Regions from separate parts of the Homo sapiens genome. Here regions 1, 2, 3, 4, 6 and 7 are each linked to region 5. The links come from fine-mapping of genetic effects on gene expression. A gene starts in region 5. Each other region holds a variant in brackets. All regions are shown on one strand. Distances are between the middles of the regions. Region 1 overlaps SLC8A1 (solute carrier family 8 member A1). Region 2 overlaps SLC8A1 (solute carrier family 8 member A1). Region 3 has its middle 36 kb from the start of SLC8A1. Region 4 has its middle 48 kb from the start of SLC8A1. Region 5 holds the start of SLC8A1 (solute carrier family 8 member A1). Region 6 holds the start of LOC101929667 (a long non-coding RNA gene). Region 7 overlaps SLC8A1 (solute carrier family 8 member A1).

Evidence for each region. PIP is the estimated chance that this variant, and not a neighbour inherited with it, causes the effect. A credible set is the group of variants that fine-mapping cannot tell apart.
Region 1: its variant is the best candidate, but not a certain one, in a credible set for the expression of SLC8A1 in iPS cells (HipSci, PIP 0.70).
Region 2: its variant is the best candidate, but not a certain one, in a credible set for the expression of SLC8A1 in monocytes (Fairfax 2014, PIP 0.87).
Region 3: its variant is the best candidate, but not a certain one, in a credible set for the expression of SLC8A1 in blood mononuclear cells (TOPMed, PIP 0.88).
Region 4: its variant is the best candidate, but not a certain one, in a credible set for the expression of SLC8A1 in whole blood (TOPMed, PIP 0.65).
Region 6: its variant is the best candidate, but not a certain one, in a credible set for the expression of SLC8A1 in whole blood (TOPMed, PIP 0.89).
Region 7: its variant is the best candidate, but not a certain one, in a credible set for the expression of SLC8A1 in blood mononuclear cells (TOPMed, PIP 0.67).

The regions. Positions count from the first base shown.
Region 1 is chr2:40,210,138-40,214,206 of GRCh38, forward strand. The region is part of intron 2 of SLC8A1 (solute carrier family 8 member A1); the gene reads right to left. All of the region lies in intron 3 of SLC8A1-AS1 (SLC8A1 antisense RNA 1), which reads left to right. Among named protein-coding and RNA genes, the nearest start is that of SLC8A1, 240 kb to the right of the region's middle. RefSeq lists an enhancer at 309-903. The variant A/ATGTTTTT (reference allele first, on the strand shown) is at 2,144.
Region 2 is chr2:40,154,638-40,158,706 of GRCh38, forward strand. The region is part of intron 9 of SLC8A1 (solute carrier family 8 member A1); the gene reads right to left. All of the region lies in intron 3 of SLC8A1-AS1 (SLC8A1 antisense RNA 1), which reads left to right. Among named protein-coding and RNA genes, the nearest start is that of SLC8A1-AS1, 240 kb to the left of the region's middle. The variant A/T (reference allele first, on the strand shown) is at 2,017.
Region 3 is chr2:40,485,826-40,489,894 of GRCh38, forward strand. It overlaps a transcript of SLC8A1 not described here. Among named protein-coding and RNA genes, the nearest start is that of SLC8A1, 36 kb to the left of the region's middle. The variant G/C (reference allele first, on the strand shown) is at 2,005.
Region 4 is chr2:40,497,669-40,501,737 of GRCh38, forward strand. It overlaps a transcript of SLC8A1 not described here. Among named protein-coding and RNA genes, the nearest start is that of SLC8A1, 48 kb to the left of the region's middle. The variant CT/C (reference allele first, on the strand shown) is at 1,521.
Region 5 is chr2:40,450,235-40,454,303 of GRCh38, forward strand. SLC8A1 (solute carrier family 8 member A1) reads right to left here and starts at 1,856. Exons shown (of 11, transcript NM_021097.5): 1 at 1,670-1,856.
Region 6 is chr2:40,510,176-40,514,244 of GRCh38, forward strand. It overlaps LOC101929667 (a long non-coding RNA gene), which reads left to right and starts at 1,747. Exons shown (of 5, transcript XR_007086295.1): 1 at 1,747-1,912. It also overlaps a transcript of SLC8A1 not described here. The variant A/T (reference allele first, on the strand shown) is at 1,581.
Region 7 is chr2:40,392,807-40,396,875 of GRCh38, forward strand. All of the region lies in intron 2 of SLC8A1 (solute carrier family 8 member A1), which reads right to left. It also overlaps the pseudogene LOC124905995. Among named protein-coding and RNA genes, the nearest start is that of SLC8A1, 57 kb to the right of the region's middle. The variant T/A (reference allele first, on the strand shown) is at 1,804.

The DNA.
Region 1 (4,069 bases), 240 kb before region 5:
GAATTACCAATCAGCTATGGCTCCAGTAAGGAAAACATATACAGTACCTATTTAAATATCATGTAGCAAGAGGGCCTGACAACTAATGCTCTTGGGAATTGATGCTATAAGAGAAGGGTATGAAGAGCTGCAGATGAGTGCCTGAAACAAGAGCTTTATTAACACAGCAGGAAGAAGATACCTGCTGGCTGGATTTTCACTGAACTCATAGCTCTTTGCATTTGGGCTCAAGGTCTTAATCTTCTACAAGTAGTGACTTCAGTTTCTAAAGGTTTCAAGGGGATCATCCAGTGCTTGTCTTTTGAATAGACTGGCATGACTTTTAAACAGGACCCAACCAAATCACATTTGATTTCAAGAAATTGAAGGGATAATTAAGAAAGTGTTAGTCACTACTGAATGTAGTGTATATGCTTTCTTCGGAATTTTAAGGGGGGAGAAAGGCCCATTAAGTCATCTTAAAAGGGCTCTTGCTGTAAAATGAAAGGTGGAGAAGGGGTAAATCTGAAATGCAAATGAATTTCCTGTTTCACCAGAAATTCAGTATTATCTAATGAATGCTGAGTAATTGAAGCACTTATTGTCATTTCTGCACCCACACTGGGAAATGGTTTCTGACCTTTAGATTCCCTACTCTTCTGAATTGCTTCTCATCAGCTCTCTCTTTATTCTCACTCCCACTCAGTTTACTTCTTGGAAGGCCTGTTGACCTTTACCTTTTTGTCATGTACAGAATACAGAATGGTTATGTATATAAGGTATCATTAACATCATAAGGCTACATGCAATTATAAAAGAAGATGAGGGATAACTTACACAGGACATAGTCCTTGCTAGATTTTATCAAGACCCTCATTTTCTAGTGGTATATCACCTTTGGAAAAGCCAGGCCATTCTGAAGTAGGTCTTTGTCTTTCCAGTCTAGAAATAATTGTTATGTCAAGTTCAGTGATAAAATGAATGGCTGCCATTGGCTGAGGACCCACTGTGGGGCATGGAGCTAGTGGGCATCTCTCCAGTCATCTCACAACAACCTTGCTCATCTCTTCCTTTTAATTATTTTACTGTGCATACTCATGAGATCTGAAACTCATGTACGTTGGCACCTTTAACATAACTACACTAGTTCTTCCTATAAAGTTTTCTAATGATAGTGGAACTTTTAAATTCAGTTTAGTTTTTGACATTTTATTTGTCTTTTTGAGAAGCCAGTAGGACTTCAAAATGTTGGGCTTTTCCAATAGACAGCTAAAAATGTAGACCTGAAGTTTACAAAAATGATTAGAGCTAAAGGTATAGATGGGAAAGTCATCAATGCTGAAGTGATAGTCATTATGTGGAAATTTAGCAAAGGAAAGATACTTGGAGGCATGCTAAGTGGTTGAAAAAGGCATCTTGGAAGATTTTCATGTTTAGGTGGTGGGAAGAGAAACACAAGCCAGAAAAGAATCCCTCAGGGACAATGAGAAAAGCAGAGCAGCAGACCCTGTGAAGTTATGGAAGTGAAATGAATGGATCCTGAAGGTATTTCAAATGGTTTGGACTATCAGGGCCAAAAAAGAACTTCTGGAAATCTGGACTTGGACAAAATCAGTCATCCTTAAGGGGCTGGATTCAGCAAAGAGGTAGATGAAAAACCCAGGTTCTAGGGTCCTCTTTTATTTCATGGGAGTGATACAGAATCCGGATCACTTTAGAAATAAAGCAAAATAATTTTTCTGAAGATGTGAACAGTGAAGTGATGTGTCTGTCACACACTAAAAACATAAAAGATGATGCATGAATAAAATAGGGAACAGCATCACTAGTTAATGCCCACATAATATCATAATTCTATACCTAATCCAAATTTGATGAACAAAATATATTTAGAGCATAAATAAAACATTTTCAATTGTTCATAATATATTCTCCAATGCACTGTATTTGTCTTGGTTTGAAAAATCCATAAAGATTTTATGTAATTTAAATAAGCAATGAAGAGAGGAAGAGGAGGAAAAGGATTTCAATATGGCCCAGAGAGAGAGACAGAGAAAGAGACATAAATCCCAGTTAATCTAAGGGAAGACTTTTAAGTCATAGTTCCTCATTCTGGCGACTTATCTGTTACTTATTTCCAGGTGCTAAACAGAAGAGATGCAAT[A/ATGTTTTT]TCTTTTTTTTTTTTTTTTTTCCTGAGACAAGTCTCGCTTTGTCGACAGGCTGGAATGCAGTGGTGCGATCTTGGCTCACTGCAACCTCTGCCTCCCGGGTTCAAGCGATTCTCCTGCCTCAGCCTCCCATGTAGCTGGGACTACAGGTGTATGCCACCATACCCAGCTAATTTTTGTATTTTTAGTAGAGACGGGGCTTCGCCATGTTGGCCAGGATGGTCTGTATCTCCTGACCTTGCAACGTGTCTGTGTGGTCCTCCCAAACTCCTGGGATTACAGATGTGAGCCACCATGCCTGGCCGAGATGCAATATCTTGAAGGCATCAGGGATCCTGTTGTTTCTCTTCAGATCTATAAATCTGCTGCCTTCTGAAGGCATTAGGAGCACCTCAAAGAAAGCAAGATGGAGCATTAACAAGTGAAGACTCTTCTTCTTTTCTTTTCTTTCTTCTTGCTTGCTCTTTTCTCTTTCTGCATCAACAATTTCAAATTCTTGGGCAGAGTATTGCTTGAACTCAGAGTTCCTGTTTGTGCAACAGTGCTGCCTTCTGCTATCAGCCACATGTAGACTTAGTTGAGGAGTCCTATGTGTAGATTCATAAATTTAGGGCAACAAAGCATGTGTGTGTAGGGGGGTTGGGCAAGAGAGCTAAGGCTAAGTCAGGGCCAGAAGTTGCCTGTAAGTAGCTCTGTAAAGCACCCATGTCTGATTTGTGGAGGTGACATCATCATTAGCTGCAGATCAATACTGACCAGAATTTAAGGTACTATGCCATAGCTTTAAGTCTTCATAATTTAAAGATGACTAAGTTGTCTCTTCTCTGTAGGTCTCTACTTTGAGTTAGATGACTTCAGAAATGATCACACATTTCATGTCAAATTTCCAGGCCTCAAATTCCTGTTCCCAGTGATATGAGTACCCACAGATAATTCACTGGTAAGATCACCGAGTGACCCAGGAATGAAACCTACCATTGAAGATGTTTATTTAGAGCTGTATCCACTGTCCACAGCCAAGGGAAATAGCCTTTTCTAGACTGGATATATTTGACCAGTAGATGGAGTAAGTGGATCCCAGAACCACCAACTAACCACCCAGAACCTGCTGATCAATGCTGTTGTCTTTCAATATTCTATCAAAAAGGGACAATGCCATCACCAGCAACTAAATCTTGAGCTTAAGGTGCATCTTCGGCAGGTGAATGTCATGTGTGACAGTTGCTCATGGATGAATGAATAACCGAAAGGGGCACCAGCAGTAGCAAAGTACTAAGATACTGAGGAAACTTGGGGTACTTAACCAAAGTCCCTTCATTTCTTCACAATTATGCTTAACACCAACCAGCCCAGCATCTGACAAACAATCCCAAGGACATTTTTTCCCCCGTCATCTCAAATATTTTTTCAAAAGTGATCATTTTACTCTGTGTTTTGGTAGAAGGGGCGAAGTCCACTTTGCAGCTGGTACAACAGAAACTAGAGCTGCATCAATTCTCTCACACTGCCAAGCCTTTCTTCTGGCAGAAGCGCTGGGGATATTACACTGGGGATAATTCATCAAGCTTGCTTTGGGTGTTCCAAATTTGCAAGCTGTGGCTAATTTCCAGAGACTTCAGGGCAATAATCTCTGCTTTCCTAAAAGAAAAACAGTAACCACACCACCTTTCAATTAAATGGGTCATGGAAAATGAATAGCCACAGATGATCACAGATATTCAGAAATCCTCAGAAAACCTAAGTGTGTAGCCAGTGGTAGAAATGATGACTGTGTGGCTGAAGAAGTCCCATTTGATGAGGGCTAGGAATCTGGCATCTGCGTCTGCCTCCACATTTGTTTCTCCCCATACATTTTCCATGTATGAATATGCACACACATGCACATGTGAAGCCTCACATGTTCAAGACCAAAACATATTGCTGGATAT
Region 2 (4,069 bases), 300 kb before region 5:
CAATTTCACACTCATATGTCTTTGACAAAGTTTTCTTTTTTGTTTTTGGAGTTAGGGTCTTACTCTGTAGCCTAGGCAGTCTAGTGGTGCAATCACAGCTCACTGCAGCCTTGAACTCCTGGGCTCAGGTGATCCTACTGCCTCAGCCTCCTGAGTAGCTGAGACTACAGGCATGCACTATCACACCCGGCTAATTTTTTATTTTTTTGTAGAGATGGGGTTTCACTATGTTGCATAGGCTGGTTTTGAACTCCTTGGCTCAAGTGAGAAACTTTCTTAGGACAGTTCTACCTACTTTTGCTCATGAGACTAGCATCCTTCTTCATGAACCTCAGTCAACATATGATTTTAGACAAAGGAAAATTATGAATGTTGATATCACATAAGAAAAAGGGCAAAATGAGAAATCCCATTGGTAACACCCTCCTCCTTTTTTTGGTTGTCTTCTAGACACACTGAGGCTATGTCAAATCTGACACAGCAGAATTATTATTATTATTATTATTTTTTGAGATGGAGTCTCGCTCTGTCACCCAGGCTGGAGTGCAGTGGTAAGATCTCTGCTCACTGCAAGCTCTGCCTCCCGGGTTCACGCCATTCTCCTGCCTCAGCCTTCCTAGTAGCTGGGACTACAGGCACCCGCCACCACGCCTGGCTAATTTTTTGTATTTTAAGTAGAGAGGTGGTTTCACCGTGTTAGCCAGGATGGTCTCCATCTCCTGACCTCGTGATCCACCTGCCTCGGCCTCCCAAAGTGCTGGGATTACAGGCATGAGCCACCGTGCCTGGCCCTAGCAGAATTTTTAACTGCTTAAATTGGATTTTCAGATGACCTAAGGCTACCACAAGGATTAAGTAATGACAATTTCCCCATAGTAATGATGTTCAATAACAGACGAGATGCTGAAAAGTCTCCTGCTTAGACCAGATTTCACGGCAATCCCTTGAAACTCATTTGAGGTACCATTTTTATTAAGACTTTTAGAGTAGATTAGCCTTCAGGCTGATAGTCAAGTGAATTATTGTCCAGGGGACCACTGAGTTGACAGTATTTTATATTAAATAATTGAGGATATTAATCCACAAAGCATGCATGGATGGACTGATGACAGAAGCGTCCTTTAAACTGAACTAGTATCCATATTGGACTGGTGGGCTAAGGTGACATGCCCTCTACTTATTTATTTAGCTGGAACTGGGTCACTTTAATTTGCTGTGAAATGTAGTGAGTGTGGACAGGTCAGCAGCATGCACCAGCTGGGCCTCATGTAGAATGTCTTCCCTTGTACTGTAGAAGATTCCACTGGCATTCCCGAGATCCAATTATGTAACAGGAAGATAGGCACTTCTGAATCATCATCTCACTTGGCTTTCTTTGAGGCTAAACTTCAACTCTCCTCTAATCCCCTTCCTTCTAGAAGAACAGAAGTGAAGTGTATGCTGCTATTGTGCTGAATATTTAGTTTAGGCAAGCCAGAGGATGGGCAAGATATGCTTTTCCATTGTCAAAATCCAACGGGCCATGAAGCAAAATCCCCATCAGGGCTACTGTAGGACTATAATGGCCATCGACAGAGCTCCCATGTTTCAGTATTGGATGGTATCTTAGAGCTAGCCTAGTCCAACTCTCTCCTTTTCCTGATGATGAAACCAAAAATCAGAAGTGTTAAATTCTTTGCCAAGATTATACAGTTGGTAAGAGACAGAACCAAAACTGCTGGAGTTTTTTTTTTTTTGAGTCACTTTTGAGTATTCTTTCGTTATAAAGATGCCAATACATACTATGTCTGATATGCAAATGGATATGTCAAAAGTAAAACAATTTCAGGAAACTCTTTAATGCTGGATATTTAACATTAGGTAAAAGAAAGAGGGAGGAGTGTGTTGACTTCAAAGAATGTCACAAATTACTAGGCAGGATAAGCCTATGGGTGCACCTAGGAAAACAAATTCTTCCCTTTGTTCTTCAGGGAATTGACTGGCATCCTCCCCAAGGAACTTGTGCACTGGACTATA[A/T]GGAGACCTAACAAATATTAAGGAAAAAAAAAAAACATTTCTATTTCAAGCTGCGGCTCCAATATCCAAACAAATATCTACTATATAATGTGCATGTCTATGTATGCATGTTTTGTGTATCTTTGTCTTTGTATGTGTGTATGCCTCTGTGTACGTGCATACCTGATTTGTATGTGTGTGTCTGTGTTCGCACAATGCATGCATGTCTCTGCGTACCTGTGTATACGTGTGTTCTACATGTGTGTTCACTCAGGCCTCATGCACAGCAAGCAAGTGCACCCTTCATGCTGGAGAGACTGTTGGGCTGATTTGTTGCCTGGTACTGCCCCTTAACAGTTTTGCTTCTTGAGCAAGTAGTTACATTGTTTTTCCAAACCTCAGTGTTCTTATTTATAAAATGGTATGCATGATACCATGAAAGAAAGAAGTTAACCAGTGTGTTTTTAGTCCCATAGCTATTTTATTAATTAAATTGAATTAACTGCATTTGCACAAAATTTGATCATATTTTATTATAGGTTCTATAATAGAATTGCCTCCCAAACAACCAACTTTGGCGTTTCCATGTACAGATGGCCTTTGTGAAAATGCATACGGTTTAAATTAATTCTTATGGCAGCTCTATGAATAAAGCAGTTATCTCTACTTTACATATGAGCAAACTGAGATTCTGAGGTGTGAGCGAACTGAGATCTTGAGGTGTAGTAATCTTCCTGGAGTCATCCAGGGAGGTTTTGGAAGGCAGGGACACAAACCCACACCTGTCTCCAAAGCCAGCCTTGCAATCATTCTCTCCTTTGCCTCACCTCTGCCCAAAGCTGTTGTGAAGAACAATATGGTGGTTGTGGAACTGGCACTGGCATCCTGGTTCCCTTTATCCAGCTAATGTTTGCCCTCTTCTCTGACACACTTGTTTCCCTTGATACCTCAGCTGGCACACGATTTTTTAGAGTCGACTCACCATTCTGCCCTGGTAGAAGGAGAGAGATTTGGGAAAAACTCAAACTGGACAGGGAATGCTGGCTTCATGGAGAAGGGCATATGCTGGCACACTTTAACAGCACCTCGTGGTACTGGACTTGCCTTGCAAGTTTTGACAGCCATTGAACTGCAGAACCCACTGTTCCTAGTGTTCAACCCAGGAAGAAACAGAAGGAGAACTGCCAGGATGTAACTGCTTAATCGCTTCCTAATCTCTGGATTCTCATAAATCCTTTAACTCTTCAAATATGGAATTAAAAGAACTGGGTTGGCAGAATCATTATGGTCACAGGAGGCCCAAGTACTGAGCTATGAAATTCAGAAAAAGCAGAGGGACAAGAAGATTGCCACAGGGTTGACTTTGAAACCAGTTTGAATACAGTTACTGAGAAAGAAAAGCAAATCCCTATTTACAAAATTATTATTTTTGTTTAGCGAGATATATTGAGTTAATTTTGCACAGAAAATTGCATAGCAAAGAAACCTCTCAGTAGAGCCCTTTAAAAGCAATTTAATATTTGTAATAAGGCAAATTGTACTGACTCTCAACTATTTAGCCATGAAATTTTAAAATCCAATGAAAGTCTGACTTCAATAAATGCTGCTTTACAAATTTTATTGCCTGTGTAACAGCCTAAGAATACTGACATTCTTTAGACAGTTAAATTTAATCATAAAGACAAATACTCAACTTTTGAAACTGCCCTTCATGTAATTGCGTATAATTTGGTGCTTTTAAAACATGGGTTTGACTTTCTGATATGTTGTTTCTCAAAATTGTAAATAAGGTCGATTTACCCAGCAGCCTGCGAATTTCTAAGCAATTGTGCCTTATTTCCAAGCGGTCATTTAGAAACATAAAGCACAATATATTGTATGACAAGAAGACTTGAGAGGTTTCATATCTCAGTTATTAACAATTCTTCAAAAGCTCTAGGCAGGAGTTAGTTCCATCATGAAATGATGACACCATGGCCGCAGGTAATGTGACGCGGCCAGTCTCTCTGTGAGAGTAGGGAGCAATTTTCCTCATTTTGAAATTTCCTTCTTCTAAAGGGCAGTAGATAGCACA
Region 3 (4,069 bases), 36 kb after region 5:
TGCTCAAAAAATACTGTGTAGAAAATTCCATATATGATTTGGTCAAATTGGACACTCAATATTTGTTTAAAGAATAAATTGATACATAAATTGCCCTTATACAAACTTATTAAAATGATGTGATATGGTTTGGTTTGTCCCCACTCAAATGTCATCTTGAATTGTAGTTCTCATAATGGCCGCATGTTGTGGGAAGGACACAGTGGGAGTTAATTGAAACATGGGAGCAGTTACCTTCATGCTGTTCTCGTGATAGTGAGTGAGTTCTCATGAGAACTGATGGTTTTATAAGGGGCTTTCCCCCCTTTGCTCAGCAGTTCTCCTGCCTGCCGCCTTGTGAAAAAGGTGCCTTGCTTCCCTTTTGCCTTCTGCCATGATTGTAAATTTCCTGAGGTCTCCCCAGCTATGCTGTACCTCTTCCCTTTATAAATTACCTAGTCTCTGATATGTCTTTATTAGCAGCATGAGAACAGACTAATACATGATTAATGTCTTCTGAAAAAATACACTTATGATACAAAAGAAATAATATGCTGTGAAAGAGAGTACTGATATCCTCTGCTTCAGTATGAATATCAAACACAGTAGAACTTATTTCAGCATGCCCTTGGATCTGGATGCTTAATCAGATCAAGTACCCTGAAACACAATTCTGCCATTAGGCAATAAGATATATTCCTCTTTCTAACAAATAATTTTCATACTCCATAGTGTGTTTTATAAACATGACACTCTGTATTTGATTTTTAAAATTGTTACATTTTTTAAAACACACAGATAATATATCAATGAATACAAGTTAGAAAGAATGGGTAGAAAAAGGGAAAATATGTCTAACCACACCATGTTAATGAGGTTTCCTATTAGTAGTATCTTAATATGTTTTTTTTAATTTCTTTTTTTTTTTATTATTATACTTTAAGTTCTAGGGTACATGTGCACAATGTGCAGGTTTGTTACATATGCATACATGTGCCATGTTGGTGTGCTGCACCTGTTAACTCGTCATTTACATTAGGTATATCTCCTAATGCTATCCCTCCCCCCTCCCCCCACCCCTTTGTAGAGACATGGATGAAGCTGGAAACCATCACTCTGAGCAAACTATTGCAAGGACAGAAAATCAAACACTGCATGGTCTCACTCATAGGTGGGAACTGAACAATGAGAACACTTGGGCACAGGGCGGGGAACATCACACACCGGGGCTTAATATGTTTTTATGTAATACTGCCTTTAATAAAGTTGCATCGAATCCCTTTTGAGCAGAAGTTGGTATTGTTTAAATGTCCACTTCATTTTTCAATTATTCAGTCTATAATATGTATGTATAGGAAATGTGCCTGATTACCAAGTCAGCAGTGGTGAAAATCATACTGTTAGGCCTTCCTGAGGAGGTAGCATGTGAGGTAAAATCGGTAAGATGTAGAAATCCATACTTTGCTGATTTACTATTACTTAGATTTTTCTCCTTAATATTTGACATTTTAACACTTTTGGTATCTAATGTGCATTTTTCCTAACAATTCTAGAATTGTATGTTACAGAAGACAGATGATTGAGAGGAATATTTCACATCTCTTGTTCTCTTTTTTAAAAATTCTACAATTAAGACAGAGTCTAATTGGATTTCCTTTATGAAACCACTGTCTCAGAGCTCTTAACTGTCTTCTTAAAAACTGCTTTTGTGAAAGCAATTTTATCAAAGTGGCATATAAAACCTTTACTAATCCTATAGTTTTGGAAAAGATATTTGGATATATTAACACAGTAGTCGGGGGAAAAATAGTGAATTCCTACTCAACAGAGAAACAGCAGCTCTACCAAGATACTTCCTTAAGAATAACCAAAACTGTCTACTCCCACTACTTTAGTGTTCACTGTGACTCCAAGAGAGGGGAACAGGAGTGAAAGAAGCCCATTGCGGAACCTGCTCACTCAGACTGGTTTTCTCACTGCTGCTGAAAAGGCCAAGCTGGGTTGCATACTTGAGAGAACTTAATG[G/C]TCAGTCATGGCATTGAAACAGACACATGCTTAATCACTTTTTCATGCTCCAGTAAGTAAATTGTTCATGGACAGATAACACCATTTAATCTCTGATACCACTTCATGGAAAAACGATACTACCAGCCACAGGGAAAGAGAATTTTAAAAATAATCATAAGTGGGGTTAAAAAGTTTAAAGCCAGCTGACTGAATATCTGGCTTTGAGTTTAGCATTAACTTTCAGATAGAAATGAGTATCTGAGTAAAAGTTTACCCTTTTAGAAGCAAGAGCTACTAAAAGGTGGATAGACAGAATACTAAAAGTCTTTGTCCATGTGTGAAATTTCACAAGATGAGATAAACTGCCAGTCCAGCTTTTTCTATAACCACAAGGGGGACACCTTCTGTAGACAGAAAAAAAAAAAAAAGACTGAAACAAAAGTAAAGGATTTTAATGAATAATCCTCCTCTCCCCTCCTGCTAGCTCACCAAGGAAGCTAGTGAAAGACTATAAATGACAGGGAATTACCGTGCCATAGAATTTGGGAGATTCAGGCCCATTCGTATTCTCTCATCTTATTTCACAGATGTGCAGGCAGACCCTCTTGAAACATGATTCCCAAGCTACCCACTTTCTAGTTTGTGTGTGTGTGTGTGTGTGTGCACGCATGTGTGTATTTTAAGCCCATTTAGCACGTGGAGAAAATGAACATGTTCCCTTTTAACTGTTAAAAGGGAAGTCTCATATGACAGTGTGCTTTTGAGCAAAACCAACTCCATGTGTGTTTAAGTGACCAAAGAGTTGGGGGGAGAAAAAGAAAAACAGACATTTTTGTACTAAGCCACGAATCTCCTAATTCTTCCCACCTGAAATCGTCTTGGATTTTAAAGGTTATTTAAATTCACATGAGTTCTTTCTTTGTGCCGTGTTAATATTATATGCAATTTGATTTCTTTGCTTGTCTGAGATTTTTCAGGACTGTGTTTATGTCTTATAATTCTTAATATCTTTATTGAAATAGTTCAGTAGGAGTGAAGAGAGCATATGAAATGCTCTGTGACTGATGTCCATCTTCAGAGAGAGAGACTTACACTGCTACATGAAACTACATACCTGGGACAGAGGAAATTATGTTGGATTTGGAAGTAGAATATCTGTTTCAGAGTCCCACAAGATAATCCTAACTATAGCAACAATCATACTCTAACGATAAGAACTGTCATTGATTGAGTGCTTATTCTGTGTCGGGAACAGCATTAACTACTTTACCAACATTCTGTCATGTAACTGTTGCATCAACCCAAGGAGGCTGTCTGAGTTTCTGTTTTACAGATAGCACAGTGAAGCTTACAGAACAAGAGAAACCTGCCTAAGGTGACACATCGCTAGCAATTTATAAGAGAAACATAATTAATAATCAAGTCTGTCTGCTCCATTTCACAATCTGTAAAACAAAGGTATAATCTACCTCAAATTTTGCCAGGCTTAAATGGGATTACACGAGCCCCGTAAACCAAAAAGCATACGTGCAAACACATGTATTAAGGTGAACATGCCATATAGACGAGGTACAATATCAAAAATAGACTCCACACAAAGCAGGGTGCAAGGCAGAAAAAAGAGAAAGGAACTTTTCTTCCCATGGTCACGGTCTGTGCCTTTTCACCCACCGAAAAGTCTGTTCTCACTTTTCTGACATTCAATGTTACTCACTAGAGATACCAACGCAGTTCTTCCCAGCTGGTGTAACGGGACTGTGACATACTATTAGAAGGGGAGTAGAGTAGAGTTTCACTTTCACTTTGGGATTAGAACACTTTAGTTGGAGAAGGAGAGAAGATAGCAGAAAGCTTGAAGACAAAAGAACAGGCCCACTCAGCTCTCTCCCTTGATAGAGATTTGGTACTTAACCTTGAGGCTTCAGCTCCATCGAGAACCATTAAGTGGCTTCTTGACCACATTCCCTGGGGTTAGTCTCTGAGCATGGGAAAGGATCAGAAGGTTTGCTGCCACAGGAACAATCCCCAAACTTTAGCCAATAAAACACTTTTCTAAATCCCCCCAAGCCAAAACAGTGTCCCC
Region 4 (4,069 bases), 47 kb after region 5:
GTTTGGAATAACTGGGACAAAGGGTGCTTATGGGGAGACAGTGAGAGACAAACTTAGGGCTACTAGCAATTGATAATAACTGGCAGAACTACAATTTCAAGGGTCTTTGGTATTAAGTTAATGAATTTGAATTTTATCCTGAGAGTTATAGGGATTTATTGAAAGATTTTTACCTGTGGGTGTGCTTGATAAAACTTGTGTTTTAGCAAATCACTTTGGCAACAACGTGGGGAATAGTAGGGAGCAGCCAGGGTGGAGGTAGGATATCTCTTAGCATGCTATTGCAATAACTTATGTAATATAAGAGGCAGATGGTAATGGATATGAGAGACATTCAGGAGGTATGAACTATTGGATTTTGGGACTGATTTGGTGTGTTGTGGACACTTAAGTAAAAAAGGGGATCTAAGCTGATTTTCAGTTTACAGTTAACCAAAGAGTTAGATAAATCAGAAAGGTCAGTCAGGTGGATAGTAAAGATGATCAGTTTAAATCACAACATGTTAAATTTGAGTCTTTAGACTCCGCAGAAATGGGCTGAATAGACAGTTGCATATATTGGTTGGACGGTGAACAATAAACATTAATAAAGTGAAACTAAAGTCAAATATAAACATGATGGTAAAACAGTACCTGGCTGCTCCAAATTTGTTCAGACATTTTGCAAAAGTAAATTATATGCCAATGTATTAAAGCTTTTTAAAAGAGAACATTGAACCAATCAGTAGTCTTTAAGGGACTCTAGAGGTTGAAATAGGAACCACAAGATTGCAAGTATAATTTCAATGTTCAAATTAAAGTCATTCTAACTTCATAAGCTTTAGGGATCTAAAACCTATCAGACAGATAAATGCTGTTGGTTTCTGACCTTCACTGGGATTTTTAACATAACTACATAAAATTACTTAAGGCCAAATAGAGAAATATGGACTGAACAATACAATTTAATGTAATCCTTCCTAACAACTGTGCTCAAAAATTGCCAACTCTAGATGAATAGTGAGTGGGTGATGTGCTGCAAGGCTCTGTCCTTGGTTTTGTCCAAATACTTTGTCAAACTATTGGATGAAGATATAAAATCCATTTTCACTACATTTTCAATGGATATCAAAGTTGAAGACTGAAAGCAGGCTAGATGACATTTAGAATCCATAAAAATCTTAATAGAGGAAATTTAATAGGGGTGGATCTGAAGATCCTGCACCTGAGCTCTCAGAATTACCTAAAAACTATTTCTTGGCTGAGTTGGGGCTGTCAACTCGCTCAACATACAAACTAAATTAATAATAAAATAGAAATAAGAGCACATTCAAAGAAAAACCTTCAGGCACTGATATAAGCCAGAATCCAGTTACATGATAAGAGAATAGACTAAAGAAACTGGAGCCACAGAGAAAATTCGAGAGAAACACAAATAATTGTTGATCTGTGGAGACTTCAAAGAGTGTCACATGGAAGAAGAATCATGTTATATATAATCGTAAGGACTGGAACTAGTGGTATCGGACAAAAAGAAGATA[CT/C]TTTTTCAGTTCATCTCTGTGCTGCGTTTGCTCACAGTGGAGTAGAGGATAACATTGACTTTAGAGTCAGACTTTTCTAGCTCTACTGTAATTAGCTGTGTAACCTTGGACAGATTTCTTTAGCATTTTTCTGTCTCATTTTCCTCATCTAAAAATGAGGATGATAATAGGATCCAGCTCATAAGGTTATTGTTAGGATTTAGTGAGTTAATATAGGTAAATCACTGAGAAAAGTGTCTGGCACATAGGAATTGCTTTTGTGCCAACTTCCACTGTTACCAGGAGCAAAAGGTGAGTTGTTCCCCAAGGAACAAGAGAATTAGAGAGATATTCTTCAAGAAGCTTTTAAAAAAGTATTGGTCATTTGTAAGCCAGGGTCTGTGAGTTGGTGACAGTTCCCAACTGTCCTAGAGGCTGTCTGCCCACACACTTCCCATCAGAGTTTATGGGGGGAGCCAACTGCAGGCAACAGTGTTCATCCCAGGACCTAGGACAATCTTCTGGTTGGTTATCGGACCAGCTCAGGCACTCCTGTCATTGCCAAACTCATCTTCTAGTCTTCATACTTTAATTTTCCATACATGTCTCTGACTTCTGTGTCAATAACCGAGTCAGAATCTGTTTTTCTGGAACACAGTCTTTGCCTCTCATCCCAAGTCCTTGCTGGAGGATAAGGGCAGTGAAGCAATAAGCCTTTATTTAAAATATTCTCGGGTATAAACTGAAGTCCATGGAGCCACAAGCACAAAGCAAATATTTGATGTTTTATAGAAAGTGGGAAAAGGCTTCTTTCTATCTCGAGATCAGAACAACCTTGAGATTTTACTAGCAGCTACATTAGTGTGTTGTTGTTTCTAGACTGTGGTTTGTGTACACATGTAACAATTCATCATCTTGTACACATTAAATATATACCATCTTTATTGGCCAACTTTTTAAAAAACAAACAAACAAACAAACAACAACAACAAAACCCCCAGGATTTGGAGTATCTCATACTTCTGAGTTACCTACCCAGCAATCTAATTAAAATTTCTGGGTCAGATCTTTGAATCATGTTCATCATCCTTTCCACTCTATCTATGGACCATACCTTTCTCATATTGAGTTCCACTCATATTGTGTTTCATTGTTTCTTAAAACAATGAAATCCATGGACAAATGGCCTTGAGAAACACTGCATTACTATAACCGTGGCTTCAATATTCCCAAGACAGATTAACTTATTAAAAGCCCCAATAATTCCTCCAGAATAAATTCCCCTAGAGTAAATTTATCTGAGTTTAACCCGTAGTTGCTAGTTTGTTCATTCATAAAGTTATTTTTAGCCTGTGGTCCATCAATATCTTATAAATCTAATATTTGGGGAAAAAATGGAACTATTAATTTTAGCAGCCATTATTTGAACTAAGTATTCATTTATTCTTGAAAAGAGGCTTTTAATTAGGGAAAACATATGTCTCCATTTTCTTGGGACATTCCCAGTTCATTGATGTTGATCCAGTGTCATTATTAATAGCTCCCTCTTTCTCTCTGAAAAATATAATTGTTCTGATAATCAATTACATAGACACTGAACCTATAAGGTAAGGTATTATCATCTGACTTTTTTTTTTTTTTTTTTTTTTTTTTTTTGGCTTTTGCCTCTCTAGTGTCTATCCTGCCTACTGCAGCCAGGAAGAACTTTTACAAAGGTAAACTAGATCATTTATTTCTCAGCTCATAATCCTCCAGTGGCTTCTAGGACCCTCAGCCAAATCTATAGCTCTCAAAGACCTAGTGATTTAGCTGCTGGCTATATCTCTGATGTAATGTTCGAAAAACTCTCCTACCTGTTCTCACGGGGCTGCTTACTGTCCCTAAACATATCAAGTTGTTCCTACTTCAAGGCCTTTCCTTTGCTGCATTTTTCTGTCTGGAAATCTCCCCGGTTATTCACATGACTTGTTTCCTTACTTCATTGAGTTTTCTGCTCAAATTTTATTTCCTGTGATCACCTTATCTAAAACTGCTTTCTTTTCTCTATCCTTCTCTATCTCTTTATCCTTCTTTACTTTGTATTTGTTTTCTGTATTGTTTGAGTTATATATCAAACACCCCAGTGACATTAACACCCTGGAAACTTCATTAAGTTGTATTTATGTACTCTTTGTAAAACATTTCTGCTATTTTCAGTTCTTCAAGTAAATTAGCAAAATAGTTAGGAAATAATTGCATACATTTGCTCACTTTAAAAGACTGACATTTTAAATAATGTTGTCAAGTTTCATTTATCTCCCTTATTTCTGGATATTTTGATTCACAAGCACTCTCTTTTGACCTGTATGCTTCTTTTGATGAATATGGATGCAATCTACCTTTCTTTGGGAAATGTATCTGTAACTAAATCAGTAACTTAGAGGAAAGGAGCTTTCTAGAAATCACCCAGTACATTCTCCTGGTCGGATAGGGAAATATACTAAGGAAGATAAATGTTTCTTTCATGTACTTCAATGTGTGGATGGACATCTATTTTGGTTTGTGCTTCATCATGTCCTTTTGGGAGTTG
Region 5 (4,069 bases):
ATCCCTCTTCCGGCTTTGTCTTCTTATTTGAAATGAATGAAACATCTAGATTCATTTTCCTTTTTTTTTCTGACTCGCTGCAGGAGTAGCTTTGAGAGAGAAAGAGAAAGCATGTGAGTGTGTGTGTGTGTGTGTGCACGCGCGCGCGCTGGTGGGGGCATGGGAAAGAGAGGTATACTTTCAGAATTCTCTCCTGGTGGCTCCCTCTTTCCCTTGGGAAATCTTCGCACAAGTCTCAGATTGTGCATGTTCAACTGCTCATATCTGGAGATACTCCAGCAATGCCTTTAACCAGATCTGATCAGAAATCTCCACCTACTCAGCTAGAGGCTCCTCCATGATCAGGACGCTTGTACTGTCTTCACCACATCTGTCATTTTTTAAAAAGCTTCTTCCACTACACCTCCCACTGATATCCTTTTTTTCTCTTTTTAGTCTTTACACCTCCAGCAGGACAAAGTTTGTATTGTTATATTCACAACCACTAGTAGCTGACTAGCAGGAGAGAGAGAGAGCGGCTTCAGGAGAGCCAGGTTCGGGGGCTTCAAAAGGATACCTAGCGCAAAGCATGACTTTCCAATGACTGCGTACAACATGCACATTGCTCTCTTCTAAAAATGCTTTGTTAAATTTCATCACCCCTGTTCTCAACTCAACCACTACCACTTTGGAGAGGGAAATACAAATTGCCAGCCCAAGCCATTCATCAAACAGCAACAGAATCCACGGGGTGGTGGGGGGGATAGAGAAGAGGCGGGGGTGATGCAGGGGGTGGATTTAAAGAATCAAGGATGCACACGTACTGTATTTTCAAGAGCATCGCCTGGGCGGATTTGGTTTCTTTGGCCGGCTGTCCAGCTATAAGACCGCCCTCTTCTTCATTAAGGAGGAGCCAAAAAGGATATCTTCACATCTCAGAACACAGACCATTTCCCCCAAGAGCCAGCAAAGCTCCAGAGGCAGAGAATGCAGCTGCAAAGTTCCCTTCCAATCTCTTGGGGAAAGATGCCTGTGTGTGCAGAATCCCCAAAGCACACCACGGCACAGTGCCCAGAGACGTGGACCCCGCAGCCCACTCCCTGCTACCCCCTACATTTCTTCCTCGTCTGTCTCTGCCCCGCCACACCTCCCTCCTCTCCGCAGTCCGTGGTGAATGAGCACCCAACGCCCGCTGGAAAACAGGGGGCTCGGAAATGTGGCCTTGGGGAAAGACCCCAGGGATTACCGGAAGGAGGGATGTCCGCGGAGAAGAGTCCAGTGGGTGGGGACGCCTGGATCCCCAGCAGCTCTGCATTCGGGGTGGACTTAGCTCTTCGCGCCCTGAATCCTCAGAGCCCAGCGCGGTGCAGGGTGCAGCATCTCTCCTTAGCAGCCCTTTCTTCCTCCGGCAGCCTGCACTGGCAGGCAGGCAGGCACCCTCACGCCCAGACGCACCAGCCCGAGCAATTTCACTCTGGGAAGCGCGGACACCCAGAAAAATGTGCAGGCGCGCACACACCACATCACACACACACACACACACACACACACACACACACACACACACACACAAATTTAGAAGCCGCTCGTTTGCCAAAGCAGAGGGAAGTGTAGCCTTATGAGCAGCAAATGGAAAATAGTTCTTGGTCTCTGACTAAATGCCTTCTGCCTGTCCATCATAAGATCCTACCTGGTTTGGGGAGTGTGAATGGATTCTTCCTCCGTTCCTCCACGCTAGTAGAAAATACGGCGCACTCCCTCCTTTTAAACAGCTCCCGATCAGGAAGAGGTCGCTCCCATCTTCTGTGGGAAGCACAAAGCAGGCGGCGGCGGCGGGCTGACTACCGTGCAGCGCCGGCGCGAGCGGGAGCCGCGGCAGCGGGCAGCGGTGCGCGCGGGCGGGAGGCAGGCGCGGAGGCCGGGAGGCTGGGAGGGCCGGGGCCCGGGCGCGCGCGCGCTCCCCCTCCCTCCCGCGCACACTCGCCCGCCCGCCGCCCGCAGCCTCGCACTCGCTCACACGCGCGCTCGGCCCCGCGGCTGCCGGGCGCCCCGGGGCCCCCTGCGCGCCCCTTGGGCTCCCCAGGCGATCGCGTCGGGGCAAAGCCGGCGCGTTTCTGGAGCACCGAGCGGGTGGGGAGCCCTTCCAGCCTCCCAGCCTCTGCCGGCGAGCAGCTTTTTCGATTTCCTGCCGGCTCTCGGCCCCGCAGTGCGTTGTGGCCGCGCGCTAGCGCTGTCTCTCGCACCCAGCCCATCGATGACACGCGCACACAGGCGCTGCAACTTTTCTTTTGAACCCTCTTCTTCTCTTCCGCAGACAGAACCCTGACCCCCAATTCGCCTACCCGTTTCTCACCTCTGACTTTGTTAATCCAACTATCTTTCTTCCCTCACTTCCTGCCCTTCTGCTAAAGGAAGCTTTCTTTTAGCAAAAGGATCTGGGCATATATCAATGATTTTTTTTTTAATCCTCACCCTGTGTTTTTCTACGTATCAGATATGCACAACTATACGTTGGCTACTAGATGCTGACACAAGCAAACAGAGATATTCGGGGGAGGGTGTCCCCCGGCCAAGAACTGGGACAGAGTCTCTGTGTTGGTATTTCCCTCAAAGATGCGTTTCACCTGGGAATAAAGACCCAGAGTCTGTTTCGTGTGAAAGGCGTGCTGGTTTTAAACTACAGTGAGGAGTAAAAGCCGAGCATTAAGGTTGAGTGGGAAAAAACCTAATGCAGCAATCGACGAACCATTCTTTGCCCTTTCCAAGAGAAGCATTATCATTGCCAATAAATCACTTTCCTCATAATTAATAAAGGAACACTGCACCAGGCCTTTCCTCTCTTGACAGCTCATTCATTCTTACAAACCCTTAATGACTTCACGTGGTGAAAGGCTAGACCTACTGTGGAGTTCACTAGCTTCCAAACCTGGCTGCGCATCACACACACCTGGGAATGTAGTCAGATGCTGTAGAATCTGAGGCCGAATCTGATGCAGACTCTCCCGTTGTAGGTCTCAAATGGGGCTCCAAATTAGTATTTTTAAAACACCAGTTGCTATCGGCCACTGGTGTCGTTTGCCAAGGTGTGTGGGGGGGTCAGGAGCAGCTACTTGGGGAAGGTGGGAGAAGGAGGGACCTGCAGAGCACAAGGCAGAAAGTTAGTTTTTTTTCGTGGAGACGTCCCCCCATACTTACAGTGCAACCAGGGCAGTCACCACGACTGATAGATTCTGACTCCAGGAACCTCAGTTTGCCTCCGCAACAAAGAGGGGGCGGAATGGAAGAAATAGCCTCTTCTGCCCCTGTGCCAGTGGCTCTCAACCCTCCTTGCACCTCAGAATCTCCTGGGCCGTTTTTAAAAATCCCAGTGCTTAGGCCACACCCCCAAACTGATTAACTTTGACTCTCTGCAGGTGGGCCCCAGACAGCCTTAATTTGTTTTTAAGATGCCTGGTTGATTCCTATGTGCAATGAAGGTTGAGAACCACTGCTCTAGGCCAATACTCCTCAAACATGAATGTGAGTATGAATCACATGGGGATTGCAGATTCTTTTTCAATAGACCTGGAGCAGGCCTGGGGTAGGCAAGTGTTGAAGTGATGCTGAGGCCGTCTGAATGAGGACCTCACTTTAATTAGTCGGGTCTGTTGCCAGCAGTCTTGGATACTGGCTTTGTAGAGGACACTCTAAGCTGCTTCACGTCTTATAAAATTTGCAGGAATCGTTCTTGCCTAAGAACATTTTTCTTTCCTTGCTATAAGTTAAATTTTCTTGGAAGCTACTTTCCACACCAACTTGGTTAGACTACACTTACTAGTGGATATAAACAGAATGACCTGTGGGGAGAGACAGAAGGTCACTGTCTCTTTTAGAATATGTCCTCTACCAAAAATTACTTAGAGTCCCTGAATTTAAGGCAGTGTGAGTAGCAGATATTTGGCTCACACTCAATGAAAGGGGCTTGGAGAGAAAAGTGGCTGCCTTCTAAATAACACTAAGGAAAGCTTATAACTAAAGACTCCACTCAATAGGAAATAGAACACAGCCAAATGAAGGAACCAAGAGAAAGCTAAATGAAAATGTGAGTGGG
Region 6 (4,069 bases), 60 kb after region 5:
TTCAATTTTCCTCTCAAAATATGATTTCTTTAAGATTTTCTAGATGTATAGTCATCACTAAATGCTTAAGAAGTCATGAAATAAAAGGGCAAGTAGCTTGACTGTCATGAATTTTCTTCCACAAATGTTGACATAGTATATACAAAATTAGCAGTAAGTCATTGTCTATTACTTATATTATGCTTCTTGGATTAGTTTTCAAGAGAAAAAACAGGAGCAGACATTTCTCATGAGGAGTGCACACTTGAAATGCACTTGGCAGTAGGCAAACGAGAAGATAGTAGCTGATATCATATATGCATTGCATCTGTTCACAAACACTAGTGGCATCATTTATGTCAACCTTTTACATATTGAAAATTGCAAAGACTCCTGCTGTGCTGTTTCTTTTGAGAAGCCGGCTGGTATATAGTGTTTAATTAAGTATTTTAAAGCCATCTTTTCGTAGGCCTGTTCCACTTTAGCAAAAGTTATGACAGCTTGTCTCTGTTAGTTTAAAAAAAGAAGGCATAGTTTATTCTCTCTCTCTCTTTCTAACTCTCTCACAAATATAGAATATTAGTATTTTTAAGTAAAATAGCCTATTTTAGAAATATAGAAATATGTTATTTTAATGTGCTCTCAATGTAAATAGGCATATAAAAGAATAATTTGATGGAAACAATCCCTTAGTATTGTAATTATTTTAATAATTATAGTGCACTATTGAAATAAAAACACATTTCCTCTTTCTCTGCCACTTTTTTGGTGTAATGGGACATTCAGAGCTTGAAAGAAACCACCACATAAGTAGTCATTTCATCTGTATCTGTTAAATGAATTGCTTTTCCCAGACATCTAATTTATCCAGAGAACATCTCCTTGGTCAGTATTACAAATTGTTTTTATTTTCTTACACTTGCTTATTAATAATTTTCCATGTCATGTCTGTCATCAGAGAAGGAAGGTCACATTCAATATTTCTCCATTTCTCTTTTCTTTTTTCCCACTCATACTCTAGATTGAAAACTTAGCTAAGTAAAAACAATTGGTTCAAATCTTATTTGAATTATGGACACATTATTCTCAGTAAAATAAATCTTGAGTTTAAATCCCATTATCTTGTGTAAATTTTTTTAATTCAATCTTGGCAAAACATGCATATTTTAAAGATATGACCTATAATTTTTTCTCTTGACTTTTGTGTTTGGCAGGAGTTCACAGACTTTGCTAACAATTTTAACAGATATGCTTTAATTTAATAACTACAATTTGGTAATTAGCTGGAGTCGCATTTCAAAATGCAATTGATATGATTTGGCTGGATTTATCTGTATTCTAGAAAATACAGGACAGTCGTATAGATACTGGTGTTGTTACTCTGTTCATATTCACACTTTTACCTTGCATCATTCCTGAGACACAGAATTTTTGATATTCTGCCACAATCTATTCCCAAAACATCACTGATGACAAAACGATAATAATCTTTGGAAACATTTCCTCTCAAGTTCCAAAGTTTTCAGTCAGTAGAAAAAAAAGAAAGAAGACAAAATTTTAAAGGTGCTGAGAAAAGCCCAGGGCTCACAGCTGGTTTCAGC[A/T]ACTTCAACTTGCGTAAGACCCCGTGTTTGTGAAAACAACCCAAGAATCTTTGAACAGGATGTAATCAACCTCCGAACTGCTGAGAAATATTGCAAAAATGACTTCAGCTGCCAAAAATAATGTCGTTTACAAGCAGCTCTTCCTATGTCTAAGGAAGAACTAGTCACACATGCGAGTTTTTGCTGGCTTGAGAACAAGCAAGGAAAAAGACAAATCCCACCTACCCTAGCCTAAAATACACAGTGAGTCTCAGAACCCCGCGGAAGCTGTGGCTCATTTCTAAAGGTGCTGGCAATATCGAGGAAGACTTGTATCCACAAAATTCCAAATGGTAAGTGACCCAGGACAGAGGGATTTTATTTGGCAGCAAATCTGTGTTGCCACTTTCCTTCCGTTGCAAAGCTTCCCTGTCTTGTGGAGGCAGAGCTGTTAAATACCTCTTAGTCACTAGCTCCAACCTATTTTTTTGTTTGTTTGTTTTTCTTTTCAAAATATTATCTGGCACCTTCCCTTAAAGGACATCAAGGGCTCTGGAGGAAATATTTGCAAATGATCCTTTATAGAAGTTCCATCACAAAAGCCCGGCACCTACCTCTGTCAAGCTTTGGCTGCTCAGTCCGCATGGGCTGGATGTGAAAAAAGATCCCAGTATGATGCCTTCTCTAAATTTACCAGAAAGAAAGGACCTGGGATGCTTGTCCTTTAAGTGTCTCTAAACATGGTTTGCATAGCTGGATCTCAGCTTATCTGTGCCTTTCGGCTTTCGCTTCCATACATGGATCTGTTCCCAACAGTAACTCCAAGCTGTCGAAAAGAAGCTATCTGGCAGCTCTCTGCTTCATCCAACACATGGATGATAAAAATACACATATAGCGATTCTTCCAGCCAGGCCCATTTCCCACCACATGATCCTGTCACTATGCTTTTTTTTTTTTTTTTTTTTCCAAAACACTTTTGAGATTGGCATTTCTACTCTCCAAATATTTAGATCATAACCAATTTTTACCTGATTCCCACATAAAGCTTTTAGGGTGTGGGTTCGCCTAGCTTTATGAAAACAGAGAGACAATTATGGTTCCTTACTAGAGTCTTCATCCTTAAAGATTCTAGTGACAGCATGTATATGGGACCTGTGAAATGTTTAATGAATGAATGAATTTATAAACGAATGGCTGAACAGATGAATAACACTGTATGTGAATGAAAAACTACGTACTTTACATATTTACTTAACTGGGAATAGTGGTTAACATTTTGGATTATTTGTCTTCAAGGAAAAGATAGCAGAGGGTAAAAGTTATCAATATCTCTAAGAGAGAAGAAGCTGTTATTTTAAACAGCTTCTCATATAGCGTATTGTGGCAGTTCCCATTAAACTACTTTCTAGAACATAGTTTAAGATTTGTAATTTTTTTAAAAAAATTAAAGAATGTAAATATGAATAGAATACTAATTTTTACATTTGTTAATTGTCAAGGATAGTTTAAATGACAGATATCTGTGACCTAAATGTTAGATGGGGGATAAATTCTGCTCTGCGTGGTGGAGAAGTACTCCCTTAGGGGGTTGCTGAAGCTCTGCTTAACACCCCAGTTCTTTAGAAACTTCACTTCTCATTTTTAACATTTATTTCTCTCATTTTTTCCAACTTGTTAATCTTGTGCAACAAGAGGTCAAAATATAGAGAGAAAGAGAAGAGAGGATTTCAAAATAATAATTTTCCATTGATTTTTTTTCGAAATCATGTTAAAACCCTTGTAAGTTATTCTGTTTGAAGAAGCAAAAATAAATTAGAGGCATAGATACAGACATAACTCATTTTGGTGTGGCAGAAATGAAATGAGTTTTGTTAAAATATTCAGGAGGGATAAAAGGAGGGAATAGTCAAAACCAGGCTGGTAAAATGTTCATTGTTGCAGGTGGTTGATAGGTACATAGGGGTTCATTATATTATCCTATTTATCGGTGTGTGTTTAAAATTTGTATTAAAAATTGAAGGAAAAGAGAGAAAAGAGAACAACAAACAGATGTGTGAAAAAAAGACACGAAGTACAAAACGGATGTATTAATGGCAAATGTGAGTATTCCTAGATTTGAGTAATTTTCCTGCCAAAGCATTTAGGTCAGAACAAGAAGGGATGAGACTGTGTTTTTTAATTCAAAATATTCTGATATTCCAACCTCCTCCTTGGAACCTCCAATTATTCTATGTAATAATAATTTGTATCTAATGAAAATTAAGATATGATATTTAAAAAGCCAACCTAATGCAGCTCAGTGCTAGACATGGTAGATGGGTGCTTACCCAGGAGCCATTCAATACCCTCTCTTCCCTTACTTTTTCTACTTTAGAAGTTCAAAAGCAAAACCTTTTTTCCTATTGTCCCTCACACCTGGAGATGACAAGGCAACATAATATTGTCCAAACAGATGTCAATAGGAGTTCCCTGGGTGGGACTTCAGGAAAGCTCATATTTGTTAAAAAAA
Region 7 (4,069 bases), 57 kb before region 5:
TTTCAGCATTAATATTTACATTAATGTTTACGTTAAAGTGGGACAGATTACACTACTTTTTACTCACTTCACTTCTTCTTACCCTGCATAGAGTTAAATACTTACTGTTTGTGCCTTGTAAGAACTCTAAAGATTATAGTGTACTAGTAAATCTACTTTATTTTGCTGGCAGGAGTCAGCAGACAAAAGAGGAGCAGGAGAAATGTTGTCAAATCAATAGTGATACTGACTGAATTTTATCAGTGTTTCATCTTTAGCTGAACTATATGAACTCATTCAGATTTTAAAAAATATGTAAACTGTCTAATCTATTTTATAGCTCCGTTTTACAGAGTTATAACATGTCAAGAACAAAGTTACAAAATCCAAAACATACAAGTTAGCATCACCTCTATTTTTTTCTGAAAATTCCGAAAGTACAATGATTAGAACACACTTCAAACCTCACAGCTCTGTATTACTTAGGAAAAAAATCCCAACAGCTATCCAGTTGTGCTTTGAGGTCATTTCTCAAAGCATGTGCATTAAGAAACTTAGCAATCTATGTTTATGGTTGCTTTATCTGGTAGTATAATACAATGAAAATCTCACATATAAAATTTATAATGTGATATTTACAGGTTCAAGGGTGGAATTGCTATGTTCCAAATGATTTTCTGTCATCCCTTAGTTCACTGTTTCTTTAATCCTTTAAAACAATCTGTACAGCCTTTGCTGTAAAAGATTATTACATTCTTATTTCCACTGTGTAGTCATAATTTTGAATGTACTCTCTAATTTACCAACATTGTTTCCAATTCCATATAAACCCATATGAGGGTGCTCCCAGCAAAACTAATTAGGGGGATAACTGTGTAATGTGAAAAAATAAAGAATTGGAATATTATCCTTGTGTCATTTGATTTGCCAAAATTCAGCTTGTAACAATTAGATACTACAGTTGGAAAATTAGTGATTTTATTTATATAACAGGATCTGTCATAAAAGAGCCAAACTGGCAAAATCACTAATAGTCATAACCTAAATCACCCAATCAACCAAAATATTATAAAGTTCAGCTTTTATTTTTATGCCTATTACCCTTTTCATGGCAATGGGTTATTTCAAATACCCCACCACAAGCCCTGAGAACACAGCTGGGTTACTTGAAACCAGTAGCTCTAAACCAGTGGTGACTTGCCCCTTAGGTGACATGTGTCAATGACTGAAGACAGTTTTGCTTGTGGCAGTCTGGGGGATGCTACTGACATTTTGTGTAGGGCTCAGGAATGCTGCTAAACATCCTACAGTAGTGCACAGGACAGCCCCCCACAAAGAAGAATGACCTGGGCTAAAATGTCAACGGAGCTTAAAAAAAGGTTACTAGTCTAAGTGAGCTTAAGTTGAGAAACCCTGCACTAACATTAAGAACTATGTGTCCAACACGGTTGCAACATGTTACGCAAACACCTGCATTTTGTGGGGTGGGGGGTGAATACAGCCATTCTAGGGAGAGTAATTTGTTCTAACTTGGGTATTTCTGCCCAATAAGCTAGTAAGATATTTGCTTTTTCTAACGTGGATTCATCAGGGCACTGAAATTTAACTATTTTATTTAAAATATGGTATATACTATTTCTTTGTGGTTTTTCTGTTAGTGTGTGTGTGTGCGTGTGTGTGTGGTGTGTGAGTGAATTTCTGAAACAGAGCGGTAGCAAGCAAATGGCAGATTTGGTTTTATCATCAAGTTTCTGTTAGACATTTCGATAAGATTATACAGAGCATATAGTGGATGCCTACTACATATTTATTGATTTTTGAAAA[T/A]AAAGTTTGTGAACCTATTTCTGCTATCTTCCTCTTTAGAGAACTGTGATTGCATTTTTCTTCTTTTTTTCTAACATGTATAGAGTGCCTGTTGCCATAGTAATCACTGATTTAGCACAACGTGTTTTTTCCTCCTTCTTTAAAAAAAAATTAGTTCCCATTCCTGCCAAAAAGGAACATATTAATCTACCCATCATGCTAGCTTGGGGAAGTTGAAGGCCACAGAAGTTGTCATTTGTGCAAAGACTCCCAGAAAGTCAGTTGTTAGCATCTTCTGTGCCAAGAACTCTACCCCAATCCCAGAGAGGAAATGAGACACTGAAGTAAAAGATTCTGGAGCTGAGGAGGTAACATCTCTCTTCTTTTCTGCAAAGTCCCACAAAAGATGTGCACAAATGCTCATGTCTGTGTAAACAAATTCACCTACTGATTATAGATTTAACAGACCACTGATGTCCAGAAAACAGGGACTAACTAGACAGTGCTCTTTAAGACAAAAGTTTACCTTAATCTACTTACTTCTGAGGGTAGGGGAACAACAACAAAAGCAACAACTAAAGAAACAAAAACCTTTTGAGAAGTCTAAAAGAAGTAGAGAAATCCTACTGAAGAAACCAACATCAACAGTTTCATTTCTTTATCAAATAAAAAGTCCGGCCTGAGTCTCCTGACTGACTACATTCTTTCTAGTATTAGGTAAATCAGATCTCAAATCTGATCTAGCCCTGCTATTCAGACCACGAATTCCTGTAAACATACCTATCTAGAACTGTGTGCAGGCCCCTCTTATGACAATGGTCTGTGCTCACCTGGATTTTTATCACTGGCACTCTTAGTCAGGACCACCAGATTCTTCCTAATTTCTCAAGTCAAATCCGAAGGCTACCCTGCTTGTGGTGTTCCATAACTCTGTCTGGCCCCTCATGAGAAATGCCACCTACTTGGATGAGAGCATTTAAGTCAGAGCAAGACAGCACAGAGGTTGACTTTAGGTTCCCATCTGACATATTTACTGTTCTAAGAGAGGAAAGGTAGTGGAAGAGAAAGAAAAACTAAAGTGGAACTGCAGGATTTCTGATTTTCAGAAATGTCTGCTTATTATCAGAGTGATAAGAACTCAAAATTAAGACATGGGAAAGGAAAAGATAGGGATATAGAGTCAGAGCTGTTCCTTAACCAAAGGCTTTACAGAATTAGAACACAGCTGACACAGGAAATTCAATGCAAGAAGGTCCTGCTCTAAATAAAAACAGATGAGGAGAAAGTCCATTCATTTTTACTAATAGTATGCATGGAGAATGAACACACGCTGCCTTTTACATAGACCCTTATAACTGTTCATACTGTTCTGTAAAATCAGCATATTTCTTATTATTTTCTTCTGGGAAAAAACACTTGGCTATGCATTTCCTTTTAATTTCATGGAAATGGGAAAGGGGTAAAAGGAAAGAAAGATAATACTTCCTGAAAACTTGAATGTTTTGCTGAAAACACCCTTAAAGGAATGTATCTCTGTCAGGGTAACAAAAACATTTAATAAAATATTTTTAAAGCAGTTGGTCTCTAAGAGAAAATGTGAGGTATATGTAATTAGTAGCAAATATGCATTCAATTGTACTAAGCATGACCATTCTTCCCCTTTAAATCCTCAATCCATGAAGTGTGTTTGTTAATTAGGCAGTAACTTGAAGAGCGCTGCTTTTCCCATAGAAGTCAGGTGCTCAACTACTCAACCATGAATCTCTACGGTTACATGAATCTATGAATGGTCTGCAAACCACTTATACTCCAGGTTTCAATTCTGCTGCCAGTAATAATAGTAATAATACCATCATTCTATTCTAGTAGCACAGTGCAAATTTAAGATAATTAGAAGATGATGATAGAAATTTGAAAGCAATGGATTACAAAACAAGACTGCATCAAAGCATAACACGCAACACAACACTTTTTCAATTATGTACATAACCTGGAAAAACTAGTTGGCAATGAAAAAAATGTGTTGAGAAGTACCTTATTAATTCATTAAATATTTCTGTAATCCTATGTTTCTTTAAAAAGAAAAAAAGATTACTAGTCTAAGTGAGCTTTTATCTTTGTTAAGCAGCATCCTTTTAACCTCCATCATCTCTAATAACTAAAAAAAAAAAAAAAAAAAAAAAAAAAAACAAGAGAAGTTAAAGAAGCAAACCAGCAAGAGAAACTGTAGTTGCTGTATCAATGACAATTATTCCAGTGATAATGACCTGACTTTTTGGGTTGGTCT